Linked DNA regions of Homo sapiens: region 2 is linked to region 1. A link means that fine-mapping ties the variant in region 1 to the expression of a gene that starts in the linked region. Tissue or cell type: prefrontal cortex. Region 1 holds a variant in brackets; the other region holds the start of a gene. All regions are shown on one strand. Distances are from middle to middle.

Region 1 (5,387 bases):
TTCACTGTGATAACTTGGTAGGGCTTCTAAAGGTAAAACAAAAATGTAGGTCCACTGGAGTTTTTAACACTGAAACTTTTCCACTCTGAGCCTACAGCAATTTGTCAATTACAGTTTAGATTTCCCTACCCCATTACTGATTTCCACAGTGGTTTCTGCTCTATAAGTTGCAATTCTCTGTCTCTGCCTGTCTGTCTCTCCAATTTTGGTGGTAGTGGTTTGCCCTATGACATCAGTTCTTTGATGGACCTAAGAAGAGTTGTTGATTTTCAGTTTATTCACCTTTTTTCTTGTTATGCGATTGGGAGTAATGACTCCCAAGCTTCTTACAGGCTTCATGGGAAACTAGAAGTTCAAATAATTACTCTTAAAAGATGCAGTCATATTCAACCTTCTTGAAATTTAGTTATCTACATTTCTCTATCCACAGACAACAATTCTTTATTTCTCTCAATCCTGCCAAAAATGGAACAATTCCCTAAATATAATTTTTAGTACTCTCCTATCTTTAGACAATGATGCTTACCATTGAGTTTTACTTGTCCCATTTTTAAAATCAAAATATAAATATCACAATTCTAGGCTTTTAAGATACTGGAAGCAAATCTGATAATCTGATAAAAAGTTGTATTATTTGTTTTGGTAACACTTAATGGTTTATCCTTTTAAATATGATAATTATTTTACTTCAAAACGATAACTAAGCGTGCTCTTAATTTATGTAATAGTCACCTCTTGCTCTATTATACTTTCCCAGCTGATCAAACACTGCACTTAACAGCTCTTCCCTCTGCAGAGAGGTTTTCTACTATTCAATAATACAGATTTTGCCTTTCTTTCAGATGACACCCCCAACCATGGTTGTGAAGATGCTAGCGACACATCGCTGTTGGGAGTTCTTCCTGCCTCTGAAGCCACAAAATGACTTTAGACTTCCAGGGCTCACCAGGTAAGTTGAGAAGTATTGTTCCTACTAAAACTAGTAATTTAATCTCCCACTGTCGCAGAATTAAATACATTTTTTCCAATATTTATATTACCATATATTATGTCACTGGTTCATATCCCCAGTATTTCAAATATTCTATGTTAACCTCTGGAAAAGAGAGAGGTTGATGAGAAAGTTGTTCCTATAGAAAATTTACAGAGTTTATCAGAATTGGTTTTGAGCATTGGCTGATGCTGCAGATAGTCTGTCACTAAGGAAGAGGTTGATTACATCTCAGCTTCACATACTGCTCATTGATAACCTCCATTCCTAGGATTTCTGTTCATTTTTGTTACACAGAGTAGGATGTTCACATTTATTCTCTTAAGTACAGACTAGATTCCGTGCATTAATATCACTCCTTATTGCTTTAATCGCCAGTGCCTGACAGATGATACATGCTTTATATTTATTAAACGTAGGTGGCTTTGTCTGATGAGAAAACATTAACGTAATAGCAGTGAAATCATTCTCTAAAGGTTTAGAAAAACAAGCACTCGTTATATAATAATGTTGCATTGAGGCAGTTCTAAAACACTTACTGGTGCCAGGACAAATAACTAAAATCAAAGTCAACTAGAAAATCCAGCACAAAAGGAACAGTGCTTTCTCTCAGTTAGAGTGGATGGTCCAAATATGATGGAGAGAAAAATTGAACTCAATGAAGTCAAAGGACTAGAAAGCACTGTGCTTTCTAAATAATGTTGAAAACACTTTTTAATTCCTAGCATGAATGAGCTAGCAATTCTGAAAACAGCATTTCTGCGTAGCCCAAAGATAATTCTAAATTTTTTATGGGAATAAATGCCAGGGAGCAAAGATAAGTCATATCTCCTGATTTTTATTATGGAATATCTAGACATCACCAACACAAAACTATTTCAAATTTGACCCAGTGATCCAAGTGAATGGGCTTGAGTTTCTCCGTTTTTTCTCAAAAATATATTATTACCATAATAACAAAAAAAGTTAGAAAAACCAGAGGCAAAGTACACAAAAACCATTTAGATAATAACTAGCTCCAACATAATTTAATGGTAACTCTTCTAATACCAAGACTTATATTTATGATTGAAGCCTTTTTCCTCTTTATATGCTATTGATAATTTCTCTATTTGGAAAAGTTCATTGAAAAACTTAAATTAAAATGTATCCTAAAGTGTATCTTATGTGTTTTCATCTGCATGATATAAGGAACAAATGATTGAGTCTGTATTATTCTAAACCAATTTTAATAAATACTAATTTATATTAGCACAATTTTTGTTTGCCAATGAATACTATGTGTTGTTTTTAAAGTACTTGAAATTAGGGTTCTATATTAGAAAAGATTTTCCCTCAGCAGTTATTATTGTGCTTAGTGTATTAGTTTTCTAGGGCTGCCAAAAGAAAATACCACAGACTGGGCAGCTTAAACAATGGAAATTTGTTTTCTCACAATTCTGGATGCCAGAAGTCCATGATCAAGATATTGGGAGGTTTGATTTCTTCTGAGGCCTCCTTCCTTCCCTTGCAGGCAGTCATCTTCTTGTTATGCCCTCAGATGGTCATCCCTTGGTCTGTGTTGTCTGTGATCTAATTTCTTCTTGTAAGGACACCAGTCATACTGGATTAGGGCTCACCCATGTGACCTCATTTTACCTTAATTACCTCTTTGAAGGTCCAATCTTCAAATACAATCACATCCTGAGGAACTAGGGGTTAAGACTTGAACATATGAATTTGGGGGGACCCAATTCAGCTCATAACACTGAGCAAGTCTATTATTCTATGATACAAAAAAACCTACTTTTGTTCTGTCTAAACCTCATTAATCATCAATTCTGACTTAGCAGAATCCATACTAAAAACTTTTGAAAGATTAATTTCCAGAGGTGTTCCAAAAACCAAAACCATATGTAATCATACCTTCCTTTTTAATTTTGGTGTTATTTAACACTCTTTTTCTTTGATAAGTAAATTATTACATTCTGAGACTCAGAATTCTAGACTATGGGAGCAGAAAGAAAATTGCATAATATCTGCATATGCACAAAAAAGAAATATTAATACATAGCACCTACTAAATCTGTCCTAATTGATCAATTCTTTGTGGGTTGTGTGTGTGTTTGTGTGTGCACACACACACGTGTCTTAACTTTAACCTCATGTAGGCTAGCATTCTTATTTAGAAGAATAGTAACTTGTTGCCTCTTGTTTTATAATTTCAGATCAACCTCTAAATATCTTTGAAGGAGACAACAACTTTTAAATGAATAAAGAGGAAGTCAAGTTGCCCT[A/G]TGGAAAACTTGTCCAAATAACATTTCTTGAACAATAGGAGAACAGCTAAATTGATAAAGACTGGTGATAATAAAAATTGAATTATGTATATCACTGTTAAATGGACTGAATGTTTGTGTTTTCCTTTGCCCCTCGCAAAAAAAAATTTGTATGTTGAAATCCTAACTGCCAATGTAATGGTATTAGGAAGTGGAGTTTTGGGGAGGTAATCATGTCGTGAGGGTGAAGCCCTCATGAATGGGATTAGTGCCCGTAATAATGGAACCTCAGAGGCTCTGTCACTGTCCTTCCCTTATGTGAGTGTACAGTGGGAAGTCAGCAGTCTACAACTTGGCAGGGAGCCCTCATCAGATCTGAATCATGCTGGCACCCTGATCTCAGGTTTATAACTTCCCAAACTGTGAGGGAAAAAAATTCTGTTGTTTATATGCCACCCAGTTTATAGTATTCTCTTACAGCAGCCCAAACTCAGACAATCACTAACTGAAAAACCACTCCATACGTATCCTACTCCTACTTCTGCTGAACAATGAAAAACATTATTTGAGGCTGACTTATGGCTGTTCTTGTAGTTCAAATTAGTGTAATTCCATAGATATTTGAATGTAGAAAGCATTTTCAAAATTGAATGTCAGAATAGTTGTCTTCATTTTTATCCCTGATAGATTTATTCATGACAGCTTTGCTCAATTGCCCTTGCTTCTAACTTGGCTTCCTCAGATTTTGAACATATTGTTGTTCCTATAGGAATTATAACACATATAGTAACAAGTATCTACCACAATAGTAAAATAATTTTTTTAAAAATCAGTAGGCTTCATGGAGCTGTTACAAGAGATGTAAAACAAACAAAAAAAAGAAGCCTAGGTGATTAGAAAAGACATTTTTAAATCTTTAAGACCCTAAATAAGCTTTATTCATTTAGGGTCTCTGCTCTCAAAGAGTTGGAAATCCTAAAAATCAGGAGACTTTAGTTCACAAATCTGGTAAGAAAGGATAATTAGTCCCATGCCAAGAAAAGCTTGTTTTGAAGGCTTCTTCTCAAGAGTTAGCAAGATTTTAGATTGTACTTCAAATATTGGGGCCTCTCTTTGCAATATGTTTGCAGTATATATTATGAGGAAATGTAGTAGAGAGTTTAACGATTAAAATTTAATCCTAGCCAATTAATATATATTTCATTAATATTGCTGTACTGCAGTAAAATTATTACAGATACCTACACTAAAATAAAGAGCCATCCCTATTTCTATGTTTAGAAAGTTTAAGTTTTTATTATAACATAAATACATGTTAAAAAATATTGAAAGAACAATAATAAATATGAAAAAGTCTATCATTCTGAAATAAGCACTGTTAACATTTTGGAATGTTTCTGTCACTCTTTTGTCTGTCCTCTCTCTTGTGTATACATGCATGAAATTATTCACCTACATAAAATAAAGATTATTCATTCTTATTACATTATTTTTTAAACTTCCATTAAATGCAACATTAATCATATTGTTGTTTTCTTGTACGTGATGAATCATTTTTCTCTTACTGCTTCCAAGATTTTCTCCTTGTCCCTGTCTTTCAACAGCTTGATGGTATCTAGATAAGGATTTCTTTGTGTTTGTCTTCCTTAAGTTTCATTGGATTATTTGGATTTTCAAATTAATATGCAAATCTGAGACATTTTCAACTGTTATTTTTTTCAAATATTTTTCTACCTCTTTCTCTATTCTTCTGTGCCTCATGCTGATATACAAGCTCTGTTACTTTTTCTGCAGTATTTTTTTCCAAGTTCTTAAGACGGATCATTTATATTAAACTACAAATTTACCGATTTTTTTCTCTTCTGGAATTTTAAAGTTACTATTTAGCCTTTTTATAAACTTATCATTTCATTTATTTCATGTTACGACTCAAGAATTCCTATTGATTTCTTTTTACAGATTTTATTTCTTCTTCTTTGTTAAGCCATTGTCGTTAGATTTTTCTTTAATTCTTTAAATATGATTTTCTTTAGTTTTTCAAACTTATTTAAATAGCTGCTTTGAAGTCTTTCTCTATTCAGTCCAGTACCTGGACCTCCTCAGAGCTAGATTTCATTGATTGCTTTTGGTTTTTTTTGGTA
Region 2 (5,387 bases), 52 kb after region 1:
TCTCTCTGTGTTTGTGTGATTTAGAATGCTAATATTGGCACTGACCTGTTCGTATGCAAGCTACATTGACCAGCCACCACTCAGGGATTCTGGGCAGAATCACGGCCAAACGGTCTCCTCTCTGCAGGCCACAGGGCTTGGTGAGCACGTTGGCAGCTTTTCGGGACAAGGAGCCCAGTTCTCTGAAGCTCCATTTTACCTCATCCCCTTTGCCATTCACCCACCACAGGGCTGGGTTAGCTGGTCTCTCCCCTGTCTGACCAGGGACACATGGAAAAGAGAGGGGTAGGTTTACATGACTGATTACTCTTACATGCGGCATCTGCTGTTTTCCCCCTTTGGCACTGGTTCTGGTGCATTCTGCTAACAGCGCCCTGAGTTCGTCTTTGAGGGAACTGCCCCTCTCCTATTGAACACAGCCTTGAAAAGAGAATCCCTCAGGTTGCTTTTACCCTTCCCCGAGCAGTAGGTGGGCATTTGACCAAAGTTGGGCCAATCAGACCTTCTCTCTCTGGACTTTTTGGTTTTCTGAGAGAAATCAAAAGATAGAAAATGGTTGGTACAAAACTTGTCTATGGGTTATTCGTGCTTACGCATGCTCAGAGAGCTGTCCTGATTCCTGTCCTCATTGAGATGGACTCTCCAGCTTCCAGCCCAATTTTGTGAGCTCTCCCATATTCCTTGAATAAATTTCTTTCTTGCTTAAATTAGATTCTTTCCCATCCAAATAACCTGAATGGATCTGCTAAGTTTGACTGGGAAGCAGACATCTCTTTGTACCCTAAGGCTGAGGTGTGGTTTTCACAAGTCACAAGGAGCAGGGTCGAGGGAGGCATCAATTTATTGACTTCTAGAGGTAACTTCTTCCCCATCATTCTATAAAGTGAGTCATCTGTACTGCAAAACCTCTTTGCCTTATGTATTACCTGGAAAAAAATTACTCTCCCTTCTTTCCCCTATCTGGAATGCTTCTTTTATCTTCTCTGGCTGGCAAATACTTTAAAGCCCTGTTGACATGTCAGTTCGTCTGTGAGCTTTTCTTAGACTTCTCTTTGTTTCTCCACTAACTTCTCTGTGTTCCTTCATCGTTGTGCTCATACTCCAGATGACTCCAATTTATTATATGACAGATGTGTCTCTTCCCTGTGGATGTAACCTCTGTAAAGATCAGGGACTGGGTTTATGTTCTGTTGGACCTGTGTGGCCTTGGATAAGTAGCTTAGCTTCTATGAGGTCAAGTTCCTCATCTGCAAACCTCCCAGGTTGTTATGGGGATTTGGTGAAATAATATAGGTCAGTATTTCTCAATCTTTAGTCATTTAAGTCTCATTGTTTCTGTCAGCTCTGCCTGCACCTGCACTATTCTTCTTTATTTTGTATACTTCGCTACATGGACTCACTTTTTACTTTTTACGTGTATACATTTACTTAAGAAGGAATATATATTTAATCAGCACCATTATTGGACAATTATTACCACTTGCCAAAAAATAGGTTATTGAAAAATAAATATGCTGAAAACAAAACTATGCCATTAAATTTTATCTAGAGATGATTAGCTTCTACCTGTGGTCTTTATTCAAGAGAGTGTTTAGCAAATGATAGGTGCTAAAGACACAATGGCTTTCAAGGAAGGCTTTCCCCCTGTATTTAACAGGAAGAATTGATTCAATGTTATTTAATACCTTGTCTGTCTAGTACCTAACATCATGTTCCCATCCATGGTCCTGCAGTGCATTTTGATAAGCACTGCTTGGTTAAGTGTTTAGCTCAGTGCCTGGCATGGGGTGAGGATCAGTACACAGAGACCTCATCCTGAGGCTGCACTGTAAACATTGCATAAGGGCCGCTTGCTTTATTCTTGTCAACCTCCAATTCTCTCCTCATTACTCCAATGATAACTGTATTCATAAAATCAAAACTCAATTTGCTACTTTTTCGATAAGCCTGTGACCAACTTGAAAACAAAGCACTGTTGCATGGGGCTTGGAGAAAAGAGAAGGAAAAGAGGCAGAACTCTGTGAGGAACGACCATGGGGATGGGAGATAGAGAAGGCTCCAGAGCCGCCCAGCCATTTGTGGCTGAGGATCTAAGATCTTCCCTGGGGAGAGGGGAGGGCAATTGGAAAACAAACAAAGGAAACCAAGAGGGTGAGAGAGTGCATTGGAATTAAGTGGTAGACCACAGAACAAGGAAATGGAAGACTGAGAGATAAGGGGACACCAAGCATCTACTGGAAGCCCATCGTCATATACCTTCTCCTTTTGGGACCACTGGTCCAGCACATCTGCAGCAAAGTTAAAGTTTTTAGGCAATGGCCTGTTACAGCGATTTATGGCTTCAAAGTCAGCAAGAGTCAGAGGCGTCCAAAGCTGGTGATCTTTGTGTAAGCGCCGGCCAGGTGGCTTGGTGAGCCAGATGAATCTAAATGTCTGGTAGCGGAAAAAAATCTTCATGGTTCCCAAAGGACTTTGTCTACTGCTATGGACACAGAAGTACTACAGCCTGTAGGGAGAGATGGATAGAGAGTATCAGTTTCTTGATGCTCTGTGGTGAGACTGGGAGGTGGATTTGTGGCTGTGTGTCCCTGGCAAGTTGGGGAACACCTGAAAAACACCTCATCCTTCCTCAGAGCTGCTGCCTTAGCCACTGACTGGTCTCCCTGCCACTGGACCCTTCCTCTTCATTCTGTCTGTGACCAGATGAGTCTAAAAAAACCCCTTAACTACAGAATTGTCAGACTCCTGTCTTCTGTTCCTGTCTTCTCCCCAACCAAACAACAGACAAATAGAAACTTCGCTGTCTGGACTGGCATTCAGAGCCTCCTTTCGCCTGCTTTATACACTGTTCTGTGTCTGCTAACTCCTCTACTTGAATTTCCTCTTCCAGTAAAGGAGGCCCGTTAACTTGCCATGAATGCCCCACTAAGAGTTGGCCTGTCATTTCCCTGGCTCCTGCTTACCCTGTTCTCCTCTCCCCTTCAACTTCCCATTGTGATTGCTTGGAAACCTGGGTTTAAGTCCTGGTTCAGCCACTTTCCGGCTGTAGGACTTTGGACAAGTTACTTATCTTCCTGCACCTCAATTTTCTCATCTGTAAAATAGGGGAAAATATAGTACCTCCCTCCTACAGTTATTGTGAGGATTTAATAAGATAATGTGTATAAAATGCCTAGCTCGTAAAAGGTGACTTCAAAGTGTTAATTACTACTGTTGTTTTTTTGTTTTTCTGTTTGTTTGTTGTTTATTAAGAAACAAGGTCTTGCTCTTTCACCCAGGTTGGCGCAATCACAGCTTACTGAAGCCTCAAACTCCTAGGCTTAAGCAATCCCCCTGACTAAGCATCCTGAGCATCTAGGACTACAGGGGCCACACCACCATGCCTTGCTAATTTTTTTTTTTTTTTTTTTGTAGAGATATGGCCTCACTATGTCACCCAGGCTGGCTTGCCTCCAACTCCTAGCCTCAAGTAATCTTCCTGCCTTGGCCTCCCAAAGTGCTGGGATTGTAGGTATGAGCCACTGCACCCAGGCAACCACTGCTGTTGTTAAGATTATTTTCCTTAATATTATTGTGGCATAGTTTTATTTTAAAAAATCCTACCATATGAACCAGAAGACTTGGATTTTATTTCTTTTTCAAAAACTGCTTTTAATATTGGTAAAATTGCCTGCTCTTTCTGGACTACCATCTGTAATCTAATTAATTTTTTAAATAATTTTGTGTTTATTTCTTCCCTGGGTTTTCCGTAACATGCATTTATGCTATTCATGTGACAGTTGTCTACTTTGTATTATCAATGATAGTTTTTCATATATGTGCCCTGTCTCCCTACCCAGCCGGTATGGGTTGAGGCTATGTAATGTGTTCTTAGCACTAAGCATGACTCACAGAAGATCTGCAATAATAAAAGGCAGTTTTTAGGTTCTTGATGTAGGCAGGCACTTTGCATTTCTGATGTCATTCAATATTCATGACAAGCTTGTGAGGTTGGTGCTATTATTATCTCTATCTTACAGATGAAGACACTGAGGTTTAAGTACACTTAAGGATCTTATCCAAGGTCATTCAGCTCGAGACAAACCATGTCTTGCCTCTGCCACCATGAGCTCAATGACGCAACCAGAGGCAAGGTTTGAACCTCTCTGGTCTGACTTCAGAACTTAACCTACTCAGCTTCTCTGCTATTTATTCTCCCTTGTGCTGCCTTCTTCGATAAAGGTTTCTTGTTGATGGTGAATGCCTTCACCCTTTTTGCCCTTCAGGCTTGTGTAGTTGTTTTGAATGGAGTGGAAGAATCTGCAAATGTAAAGAGTACCTGAGTCTGCAGCATGGTGATAACAAACAATAGAAAGGAGGGTGCAGGGTGTGCCATCCTTCATTGTTGTTGCCAAGTCCTCTGTGCTGCTCAGAGTGACTTCTGGATAAGTGGCAGGTCCATTTGGTGCAAACACAATTTGCTGTATTTCAAAAATAGCTATTGCTGGCAATACCGTTGGTGTTAAACTCTCTGTTATGCCAAGGTAAAAAAAGAAGAGGGATAGCGCCTTAACTGGGCAATTATCAAGAGTAAAGAAAAGGGAGAAAAGAGAAGCAGAGTGGACCACATTCATGGTTTAGCATTCTGCCAAAAGTGAGACTCTCATCCCTCTCCTAAAACACAGACGTGCACACACACATGCACACACACACACATACCACTTGCACCACACTTGCATCCAAACTTGCTTCTCTGGATGACCTTTGTCAAGTTGCTTAACATCTCCAAGTCTCATTTGCATCTGTGCAATGAGAGTAATAATACCTTCTTCACTAGGTAGTTGCAAGGTTTTAGTGAGTACGTTAGCACAGTGCATGGTTTGTGGCTAGGAATGAATAAATGCTGCATATTAAAAATAAAACCTCAGAAGCATTTGTGACAGAAGACTTCAGCTCTTGATATATAAAGAAACCTAGAAAAGCTGTTGGTTTGGAAGGCCAGATGTAGTGGCTCACACCTATAATCCCAGCATTTTGGGAGGCCGAGGTGGCCAGATCACTTGAGGTCAGGAGTTCGAGACCAGCCTGGCCAACATGGTGAAACCCCATTTCTACTAAAAGTACAAAAATTAGCTGGGCGTGGTGCTGCGTTCCTGTAATCCCAGCTACTCAGAAAGCTGAGGCAGGAGACTTCGCTTGAACGTGGGAGGCAGAGGTTGCAGTGAAACAAGATTGCACCAGTGCACCCCAGCCGGGGTGACAGAGTGAGACTCCGTCTCAAACAACAACAGCAAAGAAAAGCTATTGGATTGGAGCTGCTAAGTTATCTTGTTTCTGCCTCTTATAATGTCCTGTCACTGTGCTCCAAGCTCTTGGGGCTGACCTGAGCCTCCATCAGTCTGAAGCAG

Which allele goes with the higher level. Positions count from the first base shown, and alleles are read on the strand shown. Sizes are in standard deviations (SD) of each study's normalised expression.
In carriers of allele G in region 1, the expression in prefrontal cortex of the gene that starts at base 2,717 in region 2 tends to be lower than with A alone (moderate effect, 0.43 SD a copy in BrainSeq).

The links. PIP is the estimated chance that this variant, and not a neighbour inherited with it, causes the effect.
Region 2: it holds the start of ACSM4, and the variant in region 1 is the best candidate, but not a certain one, in a credible set for the expression of ACSM4 in prefrontal cortex (BrainSeq, PIP 0.66).

Annotation. Positions count from the first base shown.
Region 1 is chr12:7,352,942-7,358,328 of GRCh38, reverse strand. It overlaps CD163L1 (CD163 molecule like 1), which reads left to right. Exons shown (of 20, transcript NM_174941.6): 19 at 843-949; 20 at 3,199-3,369. The coding sequence ends at 925. Among named protein-coding and RNA genes, the nearest start is that of ACSM4, 52 kb to the right of the region's middle. The variant A/G (reference allele first, on the strand shown) is at 3,268.
Region 2 is chr12:7,301,402-7,306,788 of GRCh38, reverse strand. It overlaps ACSM4 (acyl-CoA synthetase medium chain family member 4), which reads right to left and starts at 2,717. Exons shown (of 13, transcript NM_001080454.2): 1 at 2,257-2,717; 2 at 46-256. The coding sequence starts at 2,457.